Linked DNA regions of Homo sapiens: region 1 is linked to region 2. The links come from fine-mapping of genetic effects on gene expression. A gene starts in region 2. The other region holds a variant in brackets. All regions are shown on one strand. Distances are between the middles of the regions.

What was found.
Region 1: its variant is fine-mapped to the expression of RNF38 in whole blood (TOPMed, PIP above 0.99).

Annotation. Positions count from the first base shown.
Region 1 is chr9:36,460,445-36,468,569 of GRCh38, forward strand. It overlaps a transcript of RNF38 not described here. Among named protein-coding and RNA genes, the nearest start is that of RNF38, 64 kb to the left of the region's middle. The variant G/A (reference allele first, on the strand shown) is at 4,084.
Region 2 is chr9:36,395,737-36,403,861 of GRCh38, forward strand. It overlaps RNF38 (ring finger protein 38), which reads right to left and starts at 4,533. Exons shown (of 12, transcript NM_022781.5): 1 at 4,361-4,533. The coding sequence starts at 4,372. LOC124902152 (a long non-coding RNA gene) reads right to left here. Exons shown (of 2, transcript XR_007061475.1): 1 at 6,158-8,125; 2 at 5,729-5,849. RefSeq lists an enhancer at 4,493-4,562 and silencers at 4,773-5,102, 5,133-5,592.

The sequences.
Region 1 (8,125 bases), 65 kb after region 2:
CCTGCCCCGACCCCATCACCAAGAACAGGGTTGATCCAGAAAGTAAGGTAAATCAATGCACAGTGGTGGGAAACAGACTTTTCCTAGTCCCAGAACACTTAATGGACTGGAAGCAGCAACTAGCTTAATCAGTGACATTCACACATATAAAGAAAAAAAGGAGCCAGGCGCGGTGGCTCACTCCCATAATCCCAGCACTTTGGGAGGCCAAGGCAGGCAGATCAGCTGAGGTTCGGAGTTCAAGACCAGCCTGACCAACGTGGAGAAACCCCATCTCTACTAAAAATACAAAATTAGCCAGGCGTGGTGGCACATGCCTGTAATCCCAGCTACTCAGGAGGCTGAGGCAGAAGAATCGCTTGAACCCAGGAGGTGAAGGTTGCAGCGAGCCGAGATTGCACCATTGCACTCCAGCCTGGGCAACAAGAGGGAAACTCTCTCAAAAAAAAAAAAAAAAAAAAAGAAAGAAAGAAAGAAAAAAAAGGAGGCTGGTCGCGATGGCTCACAACTGTAATTCCAACACTTTGGGAGGCCAAAGCAGGTGGATCACCTGAGATTAGAAGTTCAAGACCAGCCTGGCCAACATGGGGGAAACCCCGTATCTACTAAAAAATACAATAATTAGCTGGGTGTGGTGGTGCACACCTGTAATCCCAGCTACTTGGGAGGCTGAGGCAGGAGAATTGCTTGAACCTGGGAGGCGGAGATTGCGGTGAGCCAAGGCTGCACCACTGCACTGCACTCCAGCCTGGGCAACAAGAGCAAAACTCCATCTCAAAACAAACAAACAAACAAACAAAAACTCTGGGTCAGGGATGTTAAAGCCATGAATGAGTAGTGGTAAGCTGTATGCTATAAAGGAAAAAGAAAACCAGAATACAATGACAGAGCAGAGAGGTAAAACCTTCTTTAGACTGAGTAGTCAAGGAAGGCCTCAGAAGAAAGCTGAGAGCTCAGGGATGAGAAGGAGCTGAGTACTCAAAGGGTAGAACAAGAGTGTTCTATGCAGAGAAAACAGCCTGGAAGAGACAGGAAAAACTGTAAATTCAAGTGCAATGGGATGCCACTGAATAGTTTAAGTAACCATGTGACCCATTCTTTCAAAAGCTTTCTCTGGCTGCTATGCAGAGAAAAAAATTGGAGACCAGACAAGTGTGAAGACCAGCTGAAAGGCTACTGTGGCAGTTCAGGGGGAGAGATGGGATAGCTTCAGTGAAAAGAGGTGAAACAATACAAAATACATTCTGGAGATGTGCTGGAAAGGACAAGAATGTGGTGGGGAGTGGTGTGTAAGAAAAACAAAGGTGCCAAAAATGACTCCTAGATTCCTGGTTTAAGCATTTCCGATGGAAAAAACTAAGGGGAGAAATAGTTTTGCAGATAATAATTTCAGTTTGGACATGTGAAGTATGAACTCCCTATAAAATACAAATTTGGGGATTCTCAGCACATAAATGATATTTAAATCCTTGGGAACAAATGCTATCATCCAGAAAACACAGAAGAGAGATGAAGAAACAGGCCCAAGCCCTGAGGAACTCAAACATGCAGTGACCGGGAAAAGAGGTTGGCAAAAAGTATATGCAAAGGTAAGAGGAAAACAAGGATTATGAGATTACAGAAGCCAACAGGCTGGGATCCAAGAAAGAGGATAAATTACGTGGATAACTCTGGTAAGAGATGCAGTAAGATGTGGTCTGAATATCCACTGGTTTGGCAACCCACCATTATGGATGACCTTGGCAGAGCAGTTTCAGGGAACTGGAATAAAGGATTAAGTCAAAGAGGGCTGAAGGGTGACTGACTATACACCAACCAGCCTGTATGCAACTTAGCAAACTTCCCAACTATCACCAAGATGCAGGTAAATCACCTCATCTCTCTCCTGCTCTACCGTAACAGCCTCCAACTGCTTTTCCTGCTTCAATCCTTACCCTCCTACAACCCATTCTCAGCACAGCGGCCAGAAAGATCCTAGAAGGGAAGTCATACCATATATCACCACTCCTCTGCTCAGTGATCTCATCTCATTCAGAACAAAGGTCAAAAACAAAGTATCCCTAATAGTCTAGAAGGTCACCATCTTACCTCTGAACACTCCTGTTCATGGAATACAGCAAGCACACTTTTGCGTCAGGGCTTCTGCACTTAAAACAGCTTGATGCCTAACTTCCTTCGAATTTCTGCTCAAATGTCACTGCACCAATGATGCTTTCTCTGACCAACTGATTGATTTTTTTTTTTTTTTGAGACAGAGTCCTGCTCTGTCGCCCAGGCTGGAGATCAGTGGCATGATCTCAGCTCACCACAACTTCCGCCTCCCAGGTTTAAGTGATTGTCGTGCCTCAGCCTCCCGAGTAGCTAGGACTACAGGCGGGCACCACCACACCTGGCTAATATTTGTATTTTTAGTAGACACGGAGTTTCACCATGTTGGCCAGGCTGGTCTCCAACTCCTGACCTCAGGTGATCTGCCTGCCTCAGTCTCCCCTGCTGGGATTACAGGTGTGAGCCACTGTACCCCGCCCTGATTTACTTTTTTTTTTTTTAAGTGAAAACAAGCTTATTAAGCAAGTGAAGGAATAAAGAATGGCTACTCCATAGGCAGAGCAGCCTGGTCAAGTGATTTAAATAGCACCTGCTTTCATTCTTTGCTTATCTTGGCCTACCCTGATCTGTTTTTCTTCTTACCACTTATCATCCTTATGGCATATTTATGCTTACTGTCTGTCTCACATCATGAGGATGTAAGCTTCATAAGAGTAGAGGTTTTACCTGCTTTTGTTCACTACTGTGTAGCCAGTATGTAGGCCTGGTACACAGTAGACACTCATTTGTTTCTTGCATGTAAGTCAGGAGAAAGGCCCCGCACATTATGAAGTAATAAACTGGCACTTTCAGTTTGATACAAGCCTTCTGTTATTTAGATAATATGAGTCTGATCACTCACAGGAATGCAGGAAAGTCTCATTTCTGGATCCATGAAATAGAATACTAGTTCTTCAATGATCTAAACGTAGGCCTTGAAAAACTCACAATTATGCCATTCTGCTGGGTGTCTCCTTGTAAATTCAAGAGCATTTCCATTCAATTTTCAATATGAACTGTTTACCTTTTGGGTAAAGCAAGGTACACTAGAAAAAAAAAATCATTTGTAATAATGCAAAGACGTGGTCACGAAGGGGGCAATGGTACTGATGAATCACACAAATACAAAGATATGTACATATTACATTTGAACAAAGGCAAGTATGTATGGTGCACTGGGATTAGGTAATTCTTCCAAATAATTGAACCATGCTTTCCAGTCTGTCTATTTAATTTCCCTAATCATCTCTCTAATCACCAAGAAGAGACTAAGCTATTTTTCTCTGCAAACTCCCTAGCTCACACTTACTCTTTTGTCCTCAGAAAAATAAGTGACCAAAAACTATTATCTTAGGCCAGGTGCGGTGGCTCACGCCTGTAATCCCAGCACTTTGGGAGGCCGAGGCGGGCGGATCACGAGGTCAGGAGATAGAGACCATCCTGGCTAACATGGTGAAACCCTGTCTCTACTAAAAATACAAAAAATTAGCCGGGCGTGGTGGCAGGCACCTGTACTCCCAGGTACTCAGGTTGAGGCAGGAGAATGGCGTGAACCCGGGAGGTGGAGATTGCAGTGAGCCTAGATCACGACACTGCACTCCAGCCTGGGCGACAGAGCAAGACTCTGTCTCAAAAAACAAACAAACAAACAAAAAACCACACAAAAAAAATTATCTTCTAATTTCTGACAAGATCAAAGCTCTGCATTATGTAGATGAAATGCAAGCCTTAATTATAATTTGAAATCATATTTAGGCCGGGCGCAGTGGCTCACGCCTGTAATCCCAGCACTTTAGGAGGCCAAGGCAGGCGGATCACAAGGTCAGGAGTTCGAGACCAGCCTGGCCAATATGGTGAAACTCTGTCACTACTAAAAATACAAAAAAAAATTAGCCAGGTGTGGTGGCGCACACCTGTAATCCCAGCTACTCAGGAGGCTGAGGCAGGAGAATTGCTTGAACCTGGGAGGCGGAGGTTGTGGTAAGCTGAGATCGC[G/A]CCACTGTACTCCAGCCTGGGTGACAGAGTGAGACTCCGTCTCAAAAAAAAAAAAAAATCATATTTGTATCAGATTATCAGTCATATATATCTACTCATGTAACCCTAAACAAACTGTGAAAACACAAATCCTGGAAACTGCAATATTCACCCAATAAATTAATATACATACACTGTATAGCTAAGAATGGAAGGAAATGGCAAAACAAGTTAAAATACAGATAAATCTAAATAACTGTGATCAATCTGGCTACATAATTGTGTGGAACATTTTTAAAAATCATTTCCAAAAATATGTAATATATAAAGATAACATAAAATTCCAGATTTGCAAAGAAAAAAGTAAAGAAAGCAAATGTACTAAAATGCTTGTTTTACAATTATGAGGACTCAAAAAGATACTATTTAGTGCTCTGCCTCTGACAGAGAATTTTAAAAGCCTTCTTAAAATCTGCATGGACCAATAACACAAAAAGATACTTAACATCATTAGCCATGGGGGGAATGCAAATCAAAACTAGAAGGAGATACCACTTCCCACCCACTAGGAGGGCTATAATCAAAAAGACAGATAACAGAGAACAAGTGTTGGCAACAATGTGGAGAAATTAGAACCCTCGTACACTGCTGGTGGGAATATAAAATGGTGTAACAACCTTAAAAAACAGCACGGCAGTTCCTCAAAAGGTTAAGCTTAGAGTTCCATTTGACCCAGTAATTCTACTCCTACATAGGGGTGGGTTCGTGTTTACACAAGAGAAATAAAAATATATGTCCATGTAAAAACTTGTACACAAGTGTTCATAGCAGCATTCTTTTTTTCTTTTTTTTCTTTCAAGATGGAGTTTCGCTCTTGTTGCCCAGGCTGGAGTGCAATGGCACAATCTCGGCTCACTGCAACTTCCACTACCCAGGTTCAAGCGATTCTCCTGCCTTAGCCTCCCGACTAACTGGGATTACAGGCATACGCCACCACGCCTGGCTGATTTTATATTTTTATAGAGACAGGGTTTCTCCATGTTGGTCAGGCTGGTCTCGAACTCCTGACCTCAGGTGATCCGCCTGCCTTGGCGTCCCAAAGTGCTGAGATTACAGGCATCAGCCACTATACCCGGCCCATAGCAGCATTATTCATAATCATCCAAAATAGGATGCAATCCATATGTGCATTAACTGATGAATGGGTAAAGTATGATACACCTATACAACTAATATTTACCTACAAAAAGTAACAAAGTGCTGGCCGGGCGCGGTGGCTCACGCCTGTAATCCCAGCACTTTGGGAGGCCGAGGCGGGTGGATCACGAGGTCAGGAGATCGGGACCATCCTGGCTAACACGGTGAAACCCCGTCTCTACTAAAAATACAAAAAAAATTAGCCGGGCATGGTGGCAGGCACCTGTAGTCCCAGCTACTCAGGAGGCTGAGGCAGGAGAATGGTGTGAACCCAGGAGGCGGAGCTTGCAGTGAGCCGAGATCGGGCCACTGCACTTGAGCCTGGGCAACAGTGCGAGACTCTGTCTCGTGAAAAAGTAAAAAAAAGTAACAAAGTGCTGATACATGTCACAACATAGATGAACCTGAAAATACTATCTATTCTAAGTGGAAGAAGCCAGTACTGTTCATAAAAGTGCAAATTGTATGATTCCATTTATATAAAAGGTCCAGAACAGGCTAATCTACAGAGACAGAAAGTAGATAGCTGTTGCCTAGGACTGAGATGGGAGGAAATGGAGAGTGACTGCCAATGAGTGGAGGATTTCTTTTCAGGGAGATGAAAATGCTCTGGTATTAGATAGTGGTACTGGTTACACAACTGTGAATACACCAAAACCCACTTAATTGTATACTTTATTTGGGTAAATTGTATATGTAAATTTATATTTCGATAAAGCTGTTAAGAATGAGGTAGCAGGCACAATGGGAGGCTCATAAAGCGTAGTTTTAGTATTTTATTTCTTGACCTGCTTGGTAGTTACACACGTGGGTTCACACTATGATGATTCATTGAGCTGCAAACTTACAAGATATGAATGTTTCTATACGTATTTCGTATGTCAAACAAATGTTTCAAAAAATAAATTTATAAATACTGACTTGGAAAGAGACCCAACATTATTATAAAGTGGGAAAAAAGCAAGTTTCAGAACAATATATATACTATGGTCCCACTTTTTGTAAATTTATACACAACACTACATGAATATACACATATCCAATCCTCACTGACCTCTGCAGGATTCAAATAAAGGAACTTTTATTTTCTCTAATATACATTTCTATAACATTTTAAATTTTGCCATGTATATTTTTGTAATCAGAAGACAATAATGTCTACTTATAAAAAAATTTGAAAAGGCATAAAGACAGCCAGTTGCGGTGGCTCACACCTGTAATCACAGCACTTTGGGAGGCTGAGGCAGGCAGTTTCACCTAAGGTTAGGAGTTTGAGACCAGCCTGGTCAACATGGCGAAACCCCGTCTCTACTAAAAATACAAAAATTAGCCAGGCGTGGTGGCACGCGCCTGTAATCCCTGCTACTCAGGAGGCTGAGGCAGGAGAATCATTTGAACCCAGGAGGTGGAGGTTGCAGTGAGCCGAGATCACACAATTGCACTGCAGCCTGGGCGACACAGCGAGACTCCGTCTCAAAAAAAAAAACAACTGCAACTAATCTGATTGCTATTACATATATATATATATAATATATATATATACACACACACACACATATACACACACATACATATATGGGTAACAGTAATAGTGAAATTATCTTTTCCAACTATTTAAAATTATGAAAAAAATTAGATGTCTACTTAAAATTTTTCAAGATTTTCAGAGTATATATTCAAAATACTTTGAATATCACTAATTAAGGAGAGTAATTATGCAGCAAGAGAAAACAGCCCAGTGCAAGGAGGCTGCAGCTCTGAGCTATGGGGCCTGAGAGAAGAGCCTAGCCCTCTGTGGGCCTGTTTCCTCAATATGACAATAAGGAGGTCAGATTATGATTCTGCTGCTCTCTGCTTCAAGAGTCACTAACTGGGTGGGTCAGGCCATTTGGGATATAACATCACTACCAATAATAACACCATTAGCAGCAATAATAAAACCCACTATAGCTTTTTCAACAATTAATGTACACTTCCATGCATCATCTCTATACACAAATGCCTGCGCCTCTCACACAGGTAATTTGTGGACACACACCAAAATGGTACCTGTTACCACCTCTGGGATTATAGTGGGGAGAGGAATAAGAATGGAGGGTCCATCAGTCAGGTCCCAAAAGTAAAGAGATGGCAAATACAAATCAGAATAATCTGAGAAGGGTTTGTTTATAAAAGAAATAATTACAAAGTAGGGGAATAGAGGCTACAGAAACCATGGGGATGGAACAGAAATCAGGACTAGTAAAGGCAGAACAAGGCTGAGCAACAGTGGCTCACACCTGTAATCCCAGCACTTTGGGATGCCAAGGTGGGAAGACTGAGTGAGCTCAGGAGTTCAAGACTAGTCTAGGAAACACAGCAAGATTCCACCTCTACAAAAAATGTTTAGAAACTAGCCAGTTGTGGTGGCGCACGCCTGTTGTCCCTACTCAAGAGGCTGAGGTGGGAAGACTGCTTGGGCCCAGAAGCTCAAGGCTGCAGTGGGCCATGATCGCACCACTGTACTCCAGCCTGCTGGGCAGAGCAATGTTCTGTCTTAAAAAAAAAAAAAAAAAGGCAGAACAAGTATTGCTTCTAGAAGTGCCAAAGAAGATAGGAGACAGAGATTACCAGAACGCAGAATCCAGGTATATAATACATGCTACCCTGAGAGGTGAAGGGATAAATATTCTGACCTCCTTCTCTGGCCCTTCAATCCAGAGGGCCTAAGAGTTCTTTATCTGGGGCAAAGAGCCAGGTAGAAAAGAGTAGAGGATGGATCTGGAGAGGTAAAGAAAAGATATCCAGCCCAGATTTCTTTTAACTTTTTATAAAATTAAATACATGAGCCTGGCGTGGTGGCTCACGCCTATAATCTCAGCACTTT
Region 2 (8,125 bases):
ATATGCATGAATATGGTCACCACAGCACAATAATAGCGACAATTTAAAAGGTAACTAGAAGCAACCTAAATGTTTAACAAATACTTGCTAAGTAAAATTACGGTACACTTGCTTGAACTATGCAGCCATTAAAAAGTAGCAACCAGAAACACTACTACTTGGGGGAGGAGAAAATTATTTAAATGCTATGATCATAAGGTAGGGTTATATATGAACAGGACTTCATAAATTCAAGAAAAAAGTTATCTTGGAATATTAGGAAGAAAAACAGAGAACTCCCTATAAAGATTAAATAGAGCAGCCAAATCAATGAGGTGACTTGAGCATACACTCAGGAGAACATGTATAAGCTCCATGTCCTGTTCAGCACAATGTCACTAACACCTAGAAGAGTACATGGCACATAGCAGGCATTCAACTATTTATTAAAAGAATAATCTTCCAAACTGTAAGCAAATGATGTAACAGCCTGCCTTTCTGATTTGTGTAACAAGTTTCTTAGAAATCTGGTTGGCAATGAGACAAGCTAAAAGCTTTGATCAAGGAAGAGATCTGATGCACTCACCTGCAGGTTACCATTAAATGAAGTCAGTGGTTGCCCAGTAAGTCCACCCCATCCTACTGAGGCAGAATAAATCATTGAGCTACTGATGCATGCTGTGCTCCTTGCTAGGATTTTTTTTTTTCCCTGTTCTGAGAATAAACTAGACCTAAATGTCACCTTTCCTTTGAGAAGAGTTCTATCACTGGGCCTAAAACAAATCTGTTTCCTTGGCTTTTGTTTTCTGGGAGCAGAGTTCTCTGAAAGGATTTTGACAGTGTGGAGCAGGGGTACTCAAAGTCCCGGATGGCATTCTTCAAAGCTGGTCCAGGAGAGAACACTGCAAACAGGAATGGGACTGTGCACGCTTAGAGTTATGCAAAAGGCAGGCCTGGATGGGCACAGGGATCTTTGGGGGATGACAGAAATGTTCAAAATGTAACCAAAAAAATCTAATTGAATGGAGTGAATTTTATGGTATATAAAACATAACTTAATAAAGCTTCTTTAAAAAAAAAAATCGAGAGCCTGGTTCTGGAAAACTGAGGTCCAAACACTGGGTAGAACTGACCCTCTGAGATGTTACTACCCTTTGAGATCCAAGACAAAATTTCTAAGTCATTCATCTCTAAGCTTCAACAGTTCTCATACACAAATGACACATGAAAAAGACTGAAAGGAATAAAAAAAAAATCATTCTCTCACTACACAACGGTCACAATTTGCTTTATATATGTGTGTGTGTGTGTATATACGTATATACGTATATACACATGTATATATACGTATATATATGTGTGTGTGTATATATATATATATATGTTTTGTTTTTTTTTTTTTGAGACAGAGCTTTGCTCTTGTTGCCCAGGGTGGAGTGCAGTGGCGCAATCCTGACTCGCACAATCCTGACTCACTGCAGTCTTCACCTCCTGGGTTCAAGCAATTCTCCTGCTTCAGCCTCCAGAGTAGCGGATTACAGGTGCTGGTCACCACACCCGACTAATTTTTTTATTTTTAGTAGAGACAGGATTTCATCATATTATTCAGGCTGGTTTCAAACTCCTGACCTCAGGTGATCCACCAACCTCGGCCTCCCAAAGTGCTGGGATTACAGGCGTGAGCTAAAAAATAATTTAAAAATAATTTTGAAAAGCTAATAGGCAGTATTAGGAGAAACCATTCAAGGACTGGTACTATGTGGGTGAGGATGTTCATTACTGCCCAGCACCGGACAATCATTTCTAAACAGAAATTATGGTTCCCACTCTTGAGTTAGGCAAACAAACAGGACCCATCTCTTTCTGAGAGCACAGCAGAAATAGGGTGTGTGAAAACAGCCTAAGGCTCCCCTACTTCCTTTCCCCAGTCCACAATCCCATAAGGTGATGAAAAAGAAGGAAAAGGGAAAAGAAAACAGATGCAACGAAAGAAATCCTCTATCCATTACACAGAGAATGCAGAAATAAAGGGTAGGAAAAATAAGAGTTACATATTTTAAATAAACTTTTCTTTCCTTCCCTTCCAAAATCTAAATTTGCCTACACAAAGATTTTTCTCCCCTCAAAGAAGTATGTCTAAAATCGTTTTACTTAGGTTGGTTACCACAAAGAATTACACAGATGTGAAAAAATATCTAGACCACAAAAGTCCAAACCAATAAAAAATTTTATACACTCTCTCCCTCTCCCTCTCTCCAAACACACACACGGCGCACACACATATAATTACTTACACAATAATTGTGGGTTTTACAATAGTTGGAAAAAAGAGGTATGATTGAGTTATAATTTTATTAAATAACAATCATAATTCAAATAATTATTGCTTGCCTGCCATATGCTGGATGCTGTGACTACAAAATGGGAAAAAGAAACAGTCCTTACCCTTAAAGCAACTCAGTCTAGTGAGGGACAATTAATAACAGGAACTACAAGAAGATAATAGGGCTCCATAACCTAGATAGAAGAGGTGAAAAGTTCAGATCCTTAACAAAGGGAAAGATCTAAGGCAGGCAGGCTCCATGGCAAACACCTGTAGTCCTAGTTACTCAGGAGGCCAAGAAAGGAGGATCACCTGGGCCCAGAAGTTCGAGTCCAGAAGGGACAACATAGCAAAACCCGTTTCTGGAAAAACTAAAATTAAAAAAAAATTTTTTTAATGAAAGATGTAAGAGTTGGGAAGAGACTGTGTACATGACCCCTCTTCTTCATCTGTTTATTCTAAATTTCTCTCATTAATTTACTATATAGAGTTCAAGTATTAATGCTTTATCTCCTCTAGATAACGTCGTATTAATTAACGTTTGCTGATGAACTAGACAAGAACTATACTGTTCAAATCCATGTTTACAATCTGTTCGCTCTTTCCAGAGAAAAGGCTGTGAGTTAAGTAGAGTAAAATGGAAGTGAAAACTGTCTGACATGTTTTCTTAGCAGGAAAACCAAAACAAACACAACGCAACAATCAAGACTAATTAAGAACTACCTTTCCAGCAAGATGAATTACAAAATGGTGGTGGCCTAAACCAAACTAGAGGTAGTACAGAGAAATAGGTGGAATAAACTAGAAGACATAATCTTGACCAATAATCTTTCCATACTGAGCAAGTACCTAATCATTTCAGAAACTTTTATCATAAGAATTTCTCACCCACACTTTCCACTCACAGCCTCAAAAAAAGAAAGTGAGCACAAACAGAAACAGCCTAGGAATGTAACATGAATTAAAAGCCTCATCCAATGCTGTTGGCAGAGAGACAACAGATCTACACTCTACATTATGATGCTAACAGTCAGTTATGTCTGACTATGCCATCTTGTTTACTCTTCATCAAAAATTAGGTTATTTTAGTAGAGAAAATTCTCCTCAATATTCACCCAGAGTAATACTTGACAATTTAACTATAAAAACAAGATGGGCATATAAAGCCCAACAAGTATGGAAATACGAACTACCTTCTAGAATCACAGACGAAGTCAGAGGTGGAAAACCCACAGATTATTTAAGTCCAACTTTTTTTATATTTTACAGATGAGAGCCTGAGGCCCACATGACGAGTCTGTGGCAGAACTTATTCAACTATAGGCGCTAAGGCCTTCAAATCTCTTAGAAATAAGTCTTACAGAAATATCATAAAAATCAACTTAAAATTGAATGAACAATGTATGATTAGCAGGTTTGCAAAAGGTGAAATATACCATATTATAAATATATATAATATATTATATAATACCATATTATAAATAAATATATTATAAATATATATTTATAAACCCCAGAGAAAGGAGTATCTGAAGTGACACAATTCCCAGGTAAACTTCCAGTCAGAAATTTCATCTTTTTATTCCAAGTGTGTCCCAGCTTCCCACACCTGATCTGACATCTATATGTATGTGGTTTCGTATTATCTCTACAAAAGTTCTATTTCTTCCATTAGACGGTGTTCCCTGAAGATAGGAACAATTTTACTTCGATTCCAACTGTCCCTATAAAAGGGAATTTTTTTTAAAGCCTACATACAAGGTTTGTTTGCTATTGAAAAAAATTTACGGTAAATTTTCAAGTATAACAACACTCGCAATCAAGGCCAAACAGAATACAGCAGACTTGCAACTCTAAGGTAACAACTGTATTATGAGCTTTGTATACATTTAAGTTTTCATACGTTAAGTCCACCGCTTAAGAAAAAAGAAATGGCAATTCATATAATGGTGGCAATAATTACATGTGTGTGTTTCTACTTACGGTAGAATTAGCATACCCAACTTTTACTGAATAATAGCATATATCATTTTTGCAACACAAAGAAAAATACTTTACCTTACAAGCCATACAGACGTAAACAAAAACTTTATTTCTTTTTGGACCTCAATAACCTGAAACACTCCCGTTTCAAAAACCAACCTCTCTCACGCTTCAACCCTGAAAGGAAGAACTTGCATCCCCTGAGAACAAAACGCAGCCTATCCAGAAACCCACGGAAGCAGAAGGACGCCAGAGAGGACCCTTTCGACCGGGTTCCGCGTTCTCCTGGGTGACATCATTTCACCTGCGTCTCGGCAAAAAGGGAGGGAGCGAGAGAGCGAGGCCATCTGCCGGGCAGCGGGCCGGCGGCTCCGCGAGCTGAGACCGCGCCTCCTCGCCACCGCGGGAACAAAGAGCGCCGGGCGGCCGAGGCAAACCTTAGCCCAAGACTCGGGCGCGGCCCCGCAGGCTCTCAACGGCCCGCAGCCCGTCCCGCCCTCGCGCTGCAGCCAACGGCCGCGGCGGCCAGTACCTGCGAGGGGAGGCTCCGCCCTGCCGGGCAGCTCCCGCGGATCCTCGCTGGGCCGCCGCCTCCTATTGTGACTGCTCGCCCAGCCCGCGGCCAGCTCGCCAGATCCGCCGTCCGCGGGCCTCCTCACCCCCGGAACCCCGGCTCCAACTTAGGCACTGTCACTGCGCTTCCTTCCTCCCGGCACCATCACACGGGCCGCGCCAGGAAACGACGGCTGCACGCCCAGAGATGACAGAGTCGCCTAACGCCTCGGAGGCTCCATCCTCTCCGCCCCCACGCCCCAACCGACCGGGCCTCGGCCCCGTCCCGCAACACCGCACTAGGGGCCCGGCCCGGCCACGCCCCTCCCCGCCCCGCCGCGCCCCGCCGCACCCCGCCTCACCCCGCCTCGGCGATCACAGACCCGGGCTCCCTATGCGCCGGCGCACTGGCCTCCGCTGCGCGCGCAGGCGACTCCCCTCGCCGCTAGGCCGCGACACGCGCGGTCCTCCCACTTCTTGGGTCCGGGTCGCCCGTCCCACCCCGTCCCCTCGCCAGCACAAACCTAGCGAGCCCAGCGCGCCAGACCACCGGAGCGCTCCTCCCTTTTCCCCCAGGCTCCGCACCGCGCGCCGAACCCCCTTTGTTTCCACCCCGAGGGGGAAGGGGGCGGGGCGGGGCGGGGCGGGGCTGCGCGCGGCCCGGCGCACGACTCGGACCAGTTCCGGCAACAGAGCTCCGCGCGCAGCACCACTGCGCAGCCCCGCCCCAGCCCGCCCCCCGCTGCCCTGCGGACCGCAGGGCCCTGTTCCAATTCCTATAGATTTTCTCTTAGTAAATTGTTGCTACTGTTCCGTGCCTCCTACCTACAAAACTCCGCAATCAAACAGTAACTGACCTCACGTAGTTCTTACAGCATAAATGCATTCACGTGGCCCGAAAAGTAAGAATTTTTATTGCAGTACACAAAGGTGTCTCTCAATGCAGCAAGCCAACAGGTTCGAACCCAACTTGTCCGAGGCTTCCTTAAGTGTGACAGTTGCTCAGATGTCGCTTGGGGAGGGGAAATAAGAACAAAGATTGAAGCCGGCTTGGCTCCTGTCCTGATAATCACGATACAAGAGAGAAAATAAAAATTTCCACAAAAGCACAATCCATACAAGGAAAAAATAGTAAAGTGGTATCAGACTTAAGGAGAGAGGGCAGTCAAGAGGACATCATGGAAGGGGTGGACTTTTTAAAGCAGAAATTAGATGTTTCCCGCAAGGATGGTGATCATATTTTAGGGTGGTAGAGTAAAATTATTAAGGACCAGTCAACAGAAAACTCGGGTTTTCAAGTTCTAGTTCTTTTGGCATTACTTAAACCAGTCTCTCTTTCCCTCTCTGGGCCTCAGCTGCAACCAGTAGAAAATGGGGGAAATCAGAGTAAATGTTGTTTCAGGACCTTCTGGACCTTGGACATTCTCTTTATGAACAACACTATATGGTAATTATTTATGTACACTTGTCTCCCATATCAGACTGAGCACCCAGACTCTGTTGGGACTGTGTAAACTAAACCCAAGGCCCAAGTCTAGTGCCAGAAACACAAGAGAAGGTGTTTAGCAACTGCTGAATCAAAGTTCCAGCAATAACATCATAGGTTTTGGAATTCCAGGACAAACAAAGAGAAGCTGGAAAGAGGTATTAGGTCCCTATGAACATATCCACCCCAAACCCATACTCGAATTATGTAACCCAGTTAACCAGCTGGCTGGCTCTCTCCCAAAGCAGCCAGTTTGGAGATGATCACATCTAAACTTGTTTTTTTTGTTTGTTTGTTTCACTTCAAGGTAAAGTGCCAACCATACCTTTAAGTTTATCCAATGTATCCTATTTTCTATCCTCTGTATCCCTCACAAATCGCAATCTACTGTGGATTCGCCTTCCAATTACAGATCTTCCACCAGAATCTAAGCTTAAAAAAAAAAAAAAAAATCCTCCCTACAGAACGCAGACCACCCTGAAGTAGCTTTTCCTCCAAGCTTGGATAGGACTATGTGAAGAGAGGGGAAAGGGGAGAAGAACATCAGGAAAGGAAAGGGAAGTTACATTTGGGAGCTATCTAACTGTAAGAGAGGCAGATTCCTCAAGTGCTGAACTCAGCAGCAAAAATCTATTACAGTCCTCCAGCATTCCTCACCTCTAAGCTTCAGCAAATCCCTCTGAGCTTCAGCCAACCTTTTGTGAGGCAAGCTTCCTGAAACCTCTCAAATGGTTACGATCTTCAACAATGCTGTCACAACCCCAGGTTGGATAGTTTTAAATTTCTTCTTCTTTTTTTATTTTTTTTGTATTTTGAGACACGGTGCTCTGTCGCCCAGGCTGGAGTGCAATGGCTGGATCACATCTCACTGCAGTCTCAAACTCCTGGGCTCAGGCAATCCAGGCTAAATTTTTAATTTTCTGTAGAGGCAGGTCTCACTATGTTGCCCAGGCTGGTCTCTAACTCCTGGGCTCAAGCAGTCCTCCCATATTGGCCTCCCAGAATGCTGGGATTACAGGTGTGAACTACCATGCACAGCCTCTAATTTATTTCTTAACCAGAAAATCTTAAGCCATGCAAGTAAACACCCAAAGAGCAGGCAGGCTTTTAAAGTGGTGGGCCACCTTTGACACCTAATGTGGCAGGGGCTAAAGTTATACCAGAGCAGTCACTTAACTACAGTCAAGCTAAAATTTTATTTGGTGTCTGTCCACAAAGGTGGAAAGTCCCACTGCAGAACTAATAGAACTTTCTGCAATGACAAAAATATTCTACATCTGCCCCATCGAAAAGGCTGCCACTAGCTAGTGACATGTAGCTACTGAGCACTTGAAATGTGGCTAGTCCAATTAATGAATTGTCCAGGATCAGTTTTTAAAGCCACACAGGGCTACGGGACAGTACAGCATTTGTAAGAAAAGGTGCTTTTGGCAAGAGCTTTTTGAGAATTCTGACTCTGAGGCTCCCTTTAAAAAACTGGTTTTCTTGACAAGTGAAAATTGTGAATGACTACTGTTATTCCAGAGCTACCCAAGTCATTTGAGTCCCTTCAATTTTAAAATAAAAATATATCAAAACATTGCTTACTGAACAGGAAAATGCTGAAGTTCCTTCAGATGGTTCTGGTAGTTATTCAATGAGATTGTTTACTCTGGTGTTCTGCCATTCTAATACATGGGAATAACAGCAGCCACTATACAAAAACTGCATAGGATTTTAGAACTGATCACCTAGTGAACAAATTCAGCCTATTCTTCAATGCTAAATCTCACCCACTTTTCACCTTTTAAAGAATGTGACTC